3 linked regions of the Homo sapiens genome follow. The protein of the gene in region 3 interacts with the protein of the main gene of each other region in a pairwise test. Each region holds a gene or a part of one and is shown on either strand. Other genes may lie near its edges. The genes, in order: NEK6, ABI2 and PRDM6.

Region 1 (3,822 bases), on a different chromosome or scaffold from region 3:
CCACGGCTCCCCACAGGCATATTTTATTTGGGGGTGGGGGACGCAGCGAGGGCTTGGCCTTGATGGGGGAAGGAGAGGGGGCATTTCCAGCAAACCCAGAAGGTGTTTTCTTTTTTTCATTTTCAGGAGAAAAAAGAAAAAGAATGTGGGTCTTTTTTGCTTCCTTCCAGGTTTTGTTTGCTAAAAGAAGACGTCCAAAGTTCATTCGGTAAGCTCAAACTCGCTGAGTCCAAACTCGCTGAGTCCGGGGCAGGCGCTTCCAGACGGCTCTGCGTCCCTTTCAATGAAATTCTTCTTCCATTAACGACAGGGTTTTTAAACGTGCCTCCAAGACCTGCCTGCACGTACTGTACACCAAACTAAGGCGACATTTTCCCCCAAAAAAGGCAAGCTGAATTTGGAAAAGTCAGACCAACTAGGGAGCTCTGGAATTTCTAAAGTTTGCCTTAAAGCAATTAAGACTTTCAGCTGCAAAGATTTTCAACAGTTAGAGAGCACGCACACACACAAAAGCCTGTCAGTCAAAACTGCAAGGACAGACCTCGGAAGCTGGTGTCCCAAGCCCGCTGTGATCAATTTGTTACTGTCCTGGGATTCACACTTGGAGCCTAGGAGAGGTATAAATAAATCAAAAGATCCGTCTACTTAGCAGGGCAGGCAGAGAGGCCCCCACATACACAGGCAAGTCTAGGGTCAGCCCCCCAGGCCTGGCTGGAGAGAGACAAGAACAAAGACAGGAGAGCCTGGAGGATATTTAGGAAAACACACGTCCTCGGGTGCCCGGCCGAGGGGCCCACCACAGCCTCCGCTCGCCCAGCCTGTGTATGCAGAGAGGGTCCTGCCAGTGGCCCTGCCGCAGCCTGGCTCTAAGACCTTTGCCTCTGTCAGGCCCAGCCAGGCTCTGAGTCTGCCCTCCTGGCCCCTGGTTCACCGGATCAGGCCCAGCCCCGACCCCCAGCCCATGCCAGGCCGCTTCTCTCTCCACGGGCTCCCTGGCTCGGGGGCCATCACTGTGCAAAGGCCTGGTGGGCGCAAAGGGGGCCGGCCCCTCAACCTCAGTAATAAACACGCTCGCACGGCCCTGCACACTCGTTATACTCACACCCACACAGGCATACTTTCGCCCTTCTAGGCTCACGCATGTGCTTGCACACAAATCACTTTGGAATGCACACACGTGCACACACACACTCCCTGAGACCCGCACGTACTCCCTGCGGCGCCCGGCACACTCCTCCGCCCGTCGTCCCCACTCGGGAAGTGGGTAGCGGGGAGCCATGCCCGCGTCCCCGCACGCACTCACCCCAACAACGCCACCAGACGCTCCGGGGTGCACACGCACACCCGCCGGGGACGCGCACACCCCGGGACACGCGGACACGCCGCCCCCGCCCGCCCGGCCGCCGACACGCTCAGCCCCGCGCGGCCACACTCGCGCCCGCCTCCCGCTCTCCCCCGCGGAGCCGTGGGCGCGCGCCCGCCCTCGGCCCGGCTGGGGGTGACGGCCCCGCCGCCCGGCCCCCGCCCTTCTCCGGGCCGCGGGGCCCCACCGGCCCGGCCCCAGCCCCAGGCGACTCACCGGCGCGCGGGCGGGCTCGGCTGCCGCTGGGGGACCGGTGCGCTGGCCCGCGGGCGGCTGGAGCGGTGCGTCCCACACGAGTTTGCGGCGCAGCGGCCGCACGCCCGTCAGCTCGGTTCCGCCGCCGCCGCCACCGCCTGCGCGGGCCCGCGCGCCCGCGCGCCCGCCCCTCCCCGCCGCGGGGCCGCGCCGCCCCCAGCGCTCGTGCGCGCTGCCGCCACGCAAGCTTGAGGGGCGGGGGGCGCCCCGGCGGCGTCCTTCCTGGGCCTGGACCCCTCGACTCCGCCGAGTTCTGCGGCCGATCCGCTCGGCCGAGGAACCCCTTCCCCATTTCAGAGATGGGAAGACTGAGGCCCAGACTCACAGGGCGCAGGCCGGCGTCTCCCCATCTTCTCCGGCTCTAGACTTATGATGAGGGTCTGCAGTCAGCCAACCCTTGGACTCCTGTGCGTCTTCGGATTCCCCATCGCCTAGCATTGCTCCTACCACAGCCCTAGTCATACTGAAATTGGCACAGTAACAAGCACTTATTGTGCACCAGCTGAATGCAGGCACTGAAGTAGGCTCCAAGAGTATTCCGATGAGGGGAAGGCCCTGCCCCCTGCCCTCAAAGTGCCAGCGACTCTTCATCTGGAGCTCCCACTTCCTGTGGCCCCCGGGGGACCAGCAAGAGCCAATGTGCAGAGGTTTCTGGAAGTAGTAAAAGTCCCCACTAAAGAATGTTGAACGCCCCCTCTAGAAGTCAGAGCCTCCCTGAGACCCAAGCAGCTCAGTTCTCACTTCACCTCCTCCCCGCACCGAGAGCGGCCGCTCCTGGCTGGGCTGTTTCCACCCCTGCTGCCTCCCCTCCACATTCAAAACTGTGCTGCACCCCAGGAGGGCTGGAGCCAGGGACACTGACTGCCTGCTTGGGCGCAGCACTGTACTGGGCACAGGGTGAATGCCCGTCTGGCTTCTGTTTGCCAAATGAGTGGAAGTGCTTCAACTGGCCGTGATCTGTAATAATGACACCAACGGAGCGTCCACCACGTGTGCCAACGTTACCCTTGTGCCCATTTTACAGATGGGCTTTGAGGCTTAGAAATGAAATTTCAGGCTGGGTGCGGTGGCTCACACCTGTAATCCCAGTACTATGGGAGGCTGAGGTGGGAGGATGCCTTGAGGCTGGGAGTTTGAGGCCAGCCTGGGCAATATAGCAAAACCCCATGTCTACAGAAAAATGTAAGAATTAGCTGGGTGTGGTAGTGCCTGCCTGCAGTCCCAGCTACTCGGGACGCTGAGGCGGGAGGGTCTCTTGAGCATAGGAGTTAGCAGCTGCAGTGAGCTATGATCGCACCACTGCACTCCAACCTGGACAACAACAATAAAAAGCAAATTCTTTTGTTCAAAGTCACCCAGATGGTAAGTGGTTGAGCTGGAAAGTGCACGGCAGATTGTCTAATTCCAGTGCCTGTGTGGCCAATCACTAGGCAGCCCTGCCTCAGGAACAGCATAGCCCTGGGCTTCTGGAACAAGAGGGCAGACGAGGCAGCAGCTGGCCCACAGGAGCGGGCCTGGTCCCAGCTCTTGTGGATGAAAATGCAGACATCACAAACCAATGGGGAGGAAATGGATTGTTCTGCAAATTGTTTAGCCGTTTAGCTGGAGATCTGTTTACAGCCTTGCCTCCCATGATATACACCACAATAAATGTCAGACAGATTGAAAAGTTAAATAGAAGAAATAAACACTGCAACAAATAATAGAAAGAAATCGAAGTTCTGAGACAGCGTATTGCAGTGTTACTAGAGGATTTGTGATACTGGCCATATTCATGCAGCAAACATTAGTTCAGTCATTGGTTCACCCGACACATCTATGAGCACCTTCCATGGGCCAGGTACTTTTCTAGGCACTGGGATAAAGGAGTGAACAAAATATGGCCCTTTCTTGGGGCTTCAGTCAAGGGGGAGGGATGGGGTGGGAGGAAGACACTGAATATCTGCCATTTCAAGGATAAGAAGTTTGGGCCGGGCGCGGTGGCTCACGCCTGTAATCCCAGCACTTTGGGAGGCCGACGCAGGCGGATCACAAGGTCAGGAGATCGAGACCATCCTGGATAACACGGTGAAACCCTGTCTCTACTAAAAATACAAAAAAATAGCCGGGCATGGTGGCAGGCGCCTGTAGTCCCAGCTACTTGGGAGGCTGAGGCAGGAGAATGGCGTGAACCCGGGAGGCGAAGTTTGCAGTGAGCCGAGATC
Region 2 (3,498 bases), on a different chromosome or scaffold from region 3:
TCATTTCTACATCCCTTATTCCTTGTTTTCCTGCAGTGTAATGGCCCTGAATGTCCTCTGAGCCTTCAGCTCCATTATGGACCCAAACTAGACTATACTTGGATAAGTTAAGCTCTTCTTCGTGTACTGGTCTATAATTAGAAAAACTGTTTTAAATTAGATGTTCCCATTATTTATTTAAACAGCTTTTTGCTGAGAAAGCTTAGTGGATTAATGAGGCAGAGGGTGTTTTGAAATCCAATAAATAGTTCCCACAGGCTGGGTGTGGTGGCTTATGCCTGTAATCCCAGCACTTTCGGAGGCCGAGGTGGGTGGATCATGAGGTCAATAAATTGAGACCATCCTGGCCAACATGGTGAAACCCCATCTCTACTAAAAACACAAAAATTAGCTGGGCGTGGTGGCGCACACCTGTAGTCCCAGCTACTTGGGAGGCTGAGGCAGGAGAATCACTGGAACCTGGGAGGCAGAGGTTGCAGTGAGCCGAGATTGTGCCACTGCACTCCAGCCTGGTGACAGAGCGAGACTCCATCAAAAAAAAAAAAAAAAAGTTCCCACAGCTCACCACTACAGAAGCAGGGAAGACAACTATGCAGAAAACAGAGTTAGTGGCGGTCAGCAGGAATGCAGCTGGTCTTTTGGACCCCTACGGGATGGGGGCAGTGCAGAAGACACTGGTGAAGTCCTTTATACTGAAGACCTGTGGTTGGGAGCAGGGGTAGTCCATGGGTCTGCTGATTTTTTTTCCCTATTTAGTACTAATGTGTGTGTGATCTTTGTTTTACAAACAGTACCTTTTGGGTTTTCTGCATATTTTATAATTTTTGTACAGTTTTGAATTCTATAGATTGTCTTGGAAGGATACTGTGTGATGGGTCAGGCACACAGTAATTGGAGACTTTTAATGTATGTAATATTTCATAGATTGCATGCTATTAATCATCTGTGAGGGTAGTATTTTTTGTTTTATTGTAAGTTTCCCTCTTTTTTTATAAATTAAAAGATGGTTGGTATTAGGAATTTCAAATGAATGCAGAAAATCTTACATGCTGTGTACTATTAATATTATAACAGACGATCCAAGTCCAAAATCTGACCAATAAAGCAACCATTTTATCAAGATAGAGGGATTCTAATGGGAGAGGGGATTCTTCCCTCCTGAAGTTTGTGTGTCCAGTCCCCTTAAAAAAAATGAATAGTTGTCTTTTCTTGTCATATTAATACTCGAAAGTCCATGGTGGTATTAATGAAAGTACACTTTATTGTTGCCTTTGAACTTACGGCCAAGGCAATAAATCAGAAACAAAAATAGTGCCAATGTGTCAAAATCGACATCTGAGAGATTCAGCCTCCCATTTGGAATAAATATGAATCTTCTAAGCTATCTTGTTTAATATTTTCCATCATTTAGCTACTTCCTATCTCCCTCAGAGGCGCCTGCTGTTCCCATTTTAGAGTTGACAGTGGCCTGCTAATTTTGCTATGTTCCTAAAAGTTACTGGGTGTGAGACATTTTCATCCCCTCCTTTTTCCTACTGCTGGTGTTTATTATCCAGCTAGACAATATTTTATGCATATTTACCGTGATGTCTGGACCGTACCTGTGCTCCTTGGCAGTTTATGTTGAAGATAACTAAAGATTTTTCTCTTTGGGAGGCATCAAAATGATGGTAGTTTGCTTTTATCTTTTTATGTTCATTTTCTTTTAGTAGGTGACCTTTCTGCATTAAGAACTGTTTTTATCTTTTACTACCTTTTCTTTTCTCCTTTGTGGAGACAGCATGACATGTCCTGAAGGTCACCTTTGCCTTTGAAAAAGGTTTGATGGAGGAATTCACAGGTGACTGACAAGTCTTTGAAAAGAATGGGATCTGCTCACTTCTGGTCTTTTTGGCCGGGAACTCCTGATTGGTGTTAAGGTGGTAATTTCCCCCATATAAGATTTAGAATCACTGAGTTTGAGCTAGATGAAATTTTTAAAATTTCTGGTTGTCTCATTAGACTGATGAGGTGAGTTTTCTTCTTCATATGAACAGCTAGTTAATAACAGCAGAGTTCTCACTCAGTGCTCAGTACTTAATTTTCCACTGCACCACAACTGTCTTAACTAAATGTGCTGTATTTTTCTTTAAAAGTTAAGAGTTCTATTTGGTGTTTTCAGGAATATACGTGAAAAGACATGCCATGTTTTGGTAAATACCATCAGAGTTGTGTAAAGGCGTGTACTAAGTGCAATCTTAATTTGTGGAAATAATCTTCATTTACCCCTCCTAAAACTACACTCAGTATAAACACTTTCCCATAAGGTGTGTGCAGTAAAAATGTTATATTACTCCAACACTGGCAGGAGCACAGCACAGCAGCCTTATTGGAGAGAGCCTTATAAAAGTGATTAAATGGAGGCATTGAGCTCATTACCTTTAAGTTTACTTTGTGCTGACCTTTGTTCCTGTTTTGAGAATCTCATATAATTATTAAAAAAAAAAAACAATTAAAACGAAACGGCGGGGCCTAGCTGTGTATAAATGATCCTTGCTGAATATCTTAAGGTTTTTTGTAAGAAAAAAGAAAAACCAACAAAAAAAGCTTATTTTCACATTAAAATGAAACCTCTTTTGCAACTTAAGAATTCTATGGAAAAGCAGTTTTTATCATATTTTGTGTCCATGCACCATTTTTCTTAAAATGGCTTACAAAAAAGAATGTAAACAATTTGTGATCTGGCCAGTTGTACTTTTAGCTCCCAGAGGGAGAGTTGGTGGTATTATGAGTTGAGTAAAAACCATCCAGGGGAACTTGAGGGAGCAGTCTGTTGCCAGTAATGTTCCTTGTGTGCCATTAAACCACCTCCAGATGAGTGGAGGAACATCACTTTTTAATTTTTTAATTGTATTTGGAATTGTTGCCGTGTACTAAGAACTTGACCTAAATAAAATCCCACAAAGTATATTCAGGTGTCTTGTTAACTTATTTATATAAATAACCTCTTTTTCTAAGGTGGTATCTTGAGTTTACGTGTTAGGGATAATCTGACTTTTCTGTTGCTCTAAACCAGGGAGCTGCCTTTTATTACTGAAGAAGTCGTCTTTTTAAATTTTCAAAGATTTAAAATGTTGAGCTTTAAATTTGATCTCAAGTTTCTTCCCTGAAGACAGCTGTTCTAATTAAGAACTTTCTAATCCTGTTTTTGCTCCACTCGCACCTGGGGTTTTCTTACCACTTTTCTCCAAATCTAATTCTGTTAATGTACAGTTTTTTTAATTCAACAGACAAACACTGAAGATGGGTGTTGACTAAAAAATATTGCAGACTGGTCAGAAGTGAATCTAAAAGACAAACCACTAACTAGCCTGTGCTTTGTTGCTATGAGAGCCTAGATTATAAAAGAATTTTCTAATGATGTATCTGAGGGTAGCAAGTAAGTTTGTCTTCACAATACCCAAAATGATGTTTCAGCTTTTCTCACTTTTCAAGCCCATCTTATTTCCTCTGTACCTT
Region 3 (3,600 bases):
GCAAGTATTTTAAATTATGAAATAAAAAGATTTTTAAACTGCCTTGGAAAAGGTATGTCTTACTGCTAAGTGAAATATAGCCATTGCAGGCTGAGAATGCTTCATCAATCTTGCAATTTCACTTCTGAATTAAATATATGCTAGAGAAGTCACCAGCAGTACACCCCAAATCCCTGGCTGTGTGCTGAGCTCCTGTACTGTTTACAATGCAGTCTGGAAAATTAATACGTTTTCACCAGAGAAAACAGACTAATTCGAGAAAGAATTAGGATAGATTCCTAATTAATATATGGGTATTGAACCAGTTTATTGCCTGGGTAACTTTTTTCTCTGGTTGGAGAAAATAAATTACAATTTTATTTAAATAATTTATATTGTGTTAATCTTCTGGTATCTCCTTTTGAGCCAACTGGATTGTTTCAGTGTTTGAAGTGCAGGGGAAAAGACAGAAGGGAAAGAAAATTAGATTGTCCTATTAGAGTTACACCCCACGTTGCTCACTAATTAAAGGGCAATTGAGAAAGAAAATAGAAAGCTGAGATAGCGCTGTGTAATGCTGGGAGACGAGATCTCCCATTCTTCCAGGAACTTCTCTGGACAAGCAAGCTTAGGCACTCATTTGAAGCCATGGGATGTACTTTTACAAAGATGAAACGTGATTGAGTTTAATCTAAGTAGGGGCTTAAAACAAGTCAGAAATGCAAATAGTGGGAAACTCGTTTCCTTTGGCAGGGGAAGTTGGCATAATGGTTATTGAAAGGCTGTGAAAAACAGAAGCTTCTCCTCATTCTCGAGTTGTATGTGAGTGGAGGTGGAGTGAAAGGAAGGGTGGAGGCAGAGGGAAGCTCCTATTAATTTATCATGTATAGATTTCCCTAGTTTTTCTTTTAGTTTTTTTACCATCTCCCTCTAAAAGAATTCTGTGAAGTGACCACTTAGCATTGCTTCATTTTGTCACTTCGTACTTAAAAGGATAGGTATTGAGTTGTTTTCTCTTTTTCTCACAAGGCGAAATAAAAAGGGCGGGATGCGGGGGTGCCTCCTTACTTCTCCCTTCCCTTTAGCAAAGTAACTTTTTGCCTAGGATCAGCAATACATATCATTGCTCTGTAAGAAAAGAACTTAGGAACACTAGTTTCACCTTGAAACTTTATTGGCATCTATGGTAAATGTCACAGTGATGGGGCTTGTAGCTCTCTTTCGTTCTAAAAGATTTTAAAACAGCAGAAACTGCAAGCTACCCGGGTGAGCTTTTCCAGTATGTTCCTAACTCCGTATCAGTTTACCCTGTGACTGAAGTACAGTTTCCACCGAAGCTCTGAATGCTTTGCTGTTGCTGCTGCTGCCGCCTTCTCTTAAAAATCAAGTGGTGCCTCCTGCGATATAAATGGGGGATGGGGCCCTTCCTTCCCCGTCTAATATTACTGCCCTCATTTGCTGCTGGGCTGCCTGAAGCCATTGATTTAGTCAGGCTCCATCGGAGTGGCCTCTTCCCGGGTTCTGGGAGCTGGTGCGTTGCCTGCTCTTGAAAAGTAGAGAGAGACAGTCACAGGGCGCGCCTGGCGTTTCTGAGTAGCATCCCGGCTGTTCTCTCAGCACAGCCCATTAGTTTTTCAGGCCTTTTTTGTAAAGATGTGCTTCCCTAGGACCTGGGAGGGAGGCGGGAACTGAGCCACTTTGGGTGTCTCGGGGGAGAGTTGGACCACTTTGCAAATTCCCCAGTTGGGGGAGGGGTCTCTGTCCCCTCCCGATTTACTGGAACCCTCCTGCGCAGGGAACAGGCTGGAAACAGCGCCGGTGTGTGCATGGGTGTGGGAGCGGGGCTTGAGGCTTCCTTGTTGGGAACACCAGGCTTTCCAAGGGTTTAGGGAGAGGGGCTGGGGAGAGAAAAGGGAGTCTGGGCCTAACACTGGTTTGTCCGGTTGCTTGCTAAGGGGTCAAGGAAAGAGACAAAGGAGGGCGAGTGTTTTCTGACCTTCCCTAATCCCTTCCCACCCAGGTGGAAAACGCAGGTCCTGTTTGGGCAACTTCGAGCCCAGTGGCACACCAGCAGGCTTTTTGTGCAACCGAGGAACATCCACTGCGCCCCTTCTGCCCTGCGCCTCCTCTGTCAAAGACCAGCGAGCGCCTTAGATTGCAGACCTGGTCCGGGTGGGAGGGAGCTTTGGCTTCAGTGCGTGGGCTTTTGTGTTTCTCTCTCTCTCTCTCTCTCTCTCTCGCGTGTGTGCAAGCCCAGCCTCATCCCATAACACACATGATTTAGCTATTTTACATCTTTCGTTATCTAGCGCCCTGAAACCGAACATACAGCCATATATTAGATTGAGGTTAGAAGAGGTGGCGACTGTTTATTCAAGGTGATAAAATGGTCCATCAGCAGTAATCTCCATCGATATGTGCCACCAGGAGATGAAGGATGAGGGGACAAGCCACAATTAATTGCCCTATAGTTTTGTAGGAGAGAGTGGAGCCAGCCCAGACCCGCTTCGATCTCCTCTCGCGGCTCCTATTCATCATCTCCGCATTGTATATGGCAGCCTCGCAGGGGCAGGGGCCGGCGAGGTTTATCTCTGCGCAATATTCTCTCACCCTCACAAACTGGCGCTCCCATTTAATTTATTAATACAGTCATCGGAAGACAAATAAGACCCACATTTTCTCCCTCCCACCTTCTTGCTCTCTTCTTTTTGTCTCTCCCTCTTGGTCCCAGGGTCAAGCCCGCAGCCAGGCAGGGCAGAGAACGCCCAGAGCTTTTGCGATTCGCGGGGAGCTTTAAACTCGCGTAGAGGGAGAGTTCCTGAGAGAATTCCCAGGAGCTGGGCCGCCCCGCAGGGTCGAGACTGAAATCAATTGGCTCCCCTTCCGGCGGCCAGGCAAACCTGCCTCGCCTCTGGATCTGCTTCTAGACCCGCTCCCGGGGCTTGGAAGACCCCTGCCGGGTAGAGGAGGAGGGCCGGGTGGGTGGCGGGGTGCAGTGGGGACGTCGGATCGTGGGTGGTGTCGGCGGCCACGCCTCATGTCAGAAGAGAGCCTTTCGTGGGCAGGAGCGGGGTGGGACCTTCAAAACTCAGCCTTCGGCGCTGAGGCCTGGGCGCCCCACCCCGCCCATCGCTCCCTTTCAGCCATCCCATCTAGCCTATAGCTCGAGAAGGCAGTGGGGGGACCGCAGGCTGGAGCCCCGGGGGCGTGAACCCCACGCGAGAAGTTCGGGCCCGGATGCTCTGCCTGCCCGCCCTCTGCCCGGCTCCCCAGCCCCCACGCCCCTCCCCGCCTAGGGCGCACGCGGCACTGCCAGCAGGCGGCACTCCCGGGTCCTAGTCGCCGGGCTGGGATCGATGGGCGCCGGCCCCTCGGGTCTCGGCCTGCGAGACTGAGGGCCGCGACCTTGGCGGCGGTAGGGGAGGATTTACAGCCGGGGTGGATAGTGGCGCCCAGGCGGGGAAGCAGGCTTTTCACCTACTCCTTGCTTTCCTATATGCAGGGCGGGTGAGAGCCAACGAAGGCGTCGGGCAGGTACTGGGGAGTGAAGATGTGATGTAGCTCTCACTCCCCACGCGCCTACACATGACTGTTGGCCTCTCCACACACCAAAAGCCCGGA

The links.
Region 1: the proteins of PRDM6 (region 3) and NEK6 interact in binary tests that used the Homo sapiens proteins (3 or more experiments, as listed by UniProt).
Region 2: the proteins of PRDM6 (region 3) and ABI2 interact in binary tests that used the Homo sapiens proteins (3 or more experiments, as listed by UniProt).

Annotation. Positions count from the first base shown.
Region 1 is NC_000009.12:124,255,843-124,259,664, reverse strand, and holds the start of NEK6 (serine/threonine-protein kinase Nek6), read right to left. Parts: upstream 1,717-3,822; 5' UTR 1,580-1,716; intron 1,425-1,579; exon of another isoform or gene 1,304-1,424; intron 456-1,303; exon of another isoform or gene 171-455; intron 1-170. UniProt on the Homo sapiens protein: Protein kinase which plays an important role in mitotic cell cycle progression. Required for chromosome segregation at metaphase-anaphase transition, robust mitotic spindle formation and cytokinesis.
Region 2 is NC_000002.12:203,429,221-203,432,718, forward strand, and holds the end of ABI2 (abl interactor 2), read left to right. Parts: 3' UTR 1-1,780; coding exon of another isoform or gene 1,781-1,785; 3' UTR 1,786-2,949; downstream 2,950-3,498. UniProt on the Homo sapiens protein: Regulator of actin cytoskeleton dynamics underlying cell motility and adhesion. Functions as a component of the WAVE complex, which activates actin nucleating machinery Arp2/3 to drive lamellipodia formation.
Region 3 is NC_000005.10:123,092,241-123,095,840, forward strand, and holds part of PRDM6 (putative histone-lysine N-methyltransferase PRDM6), read left to right. Parts: intron 1-3,600. UniProt on the Homo sapiens protein: Putative histone methyltransferase that acts as a transcriptional repressor of smooth muscle gene expression.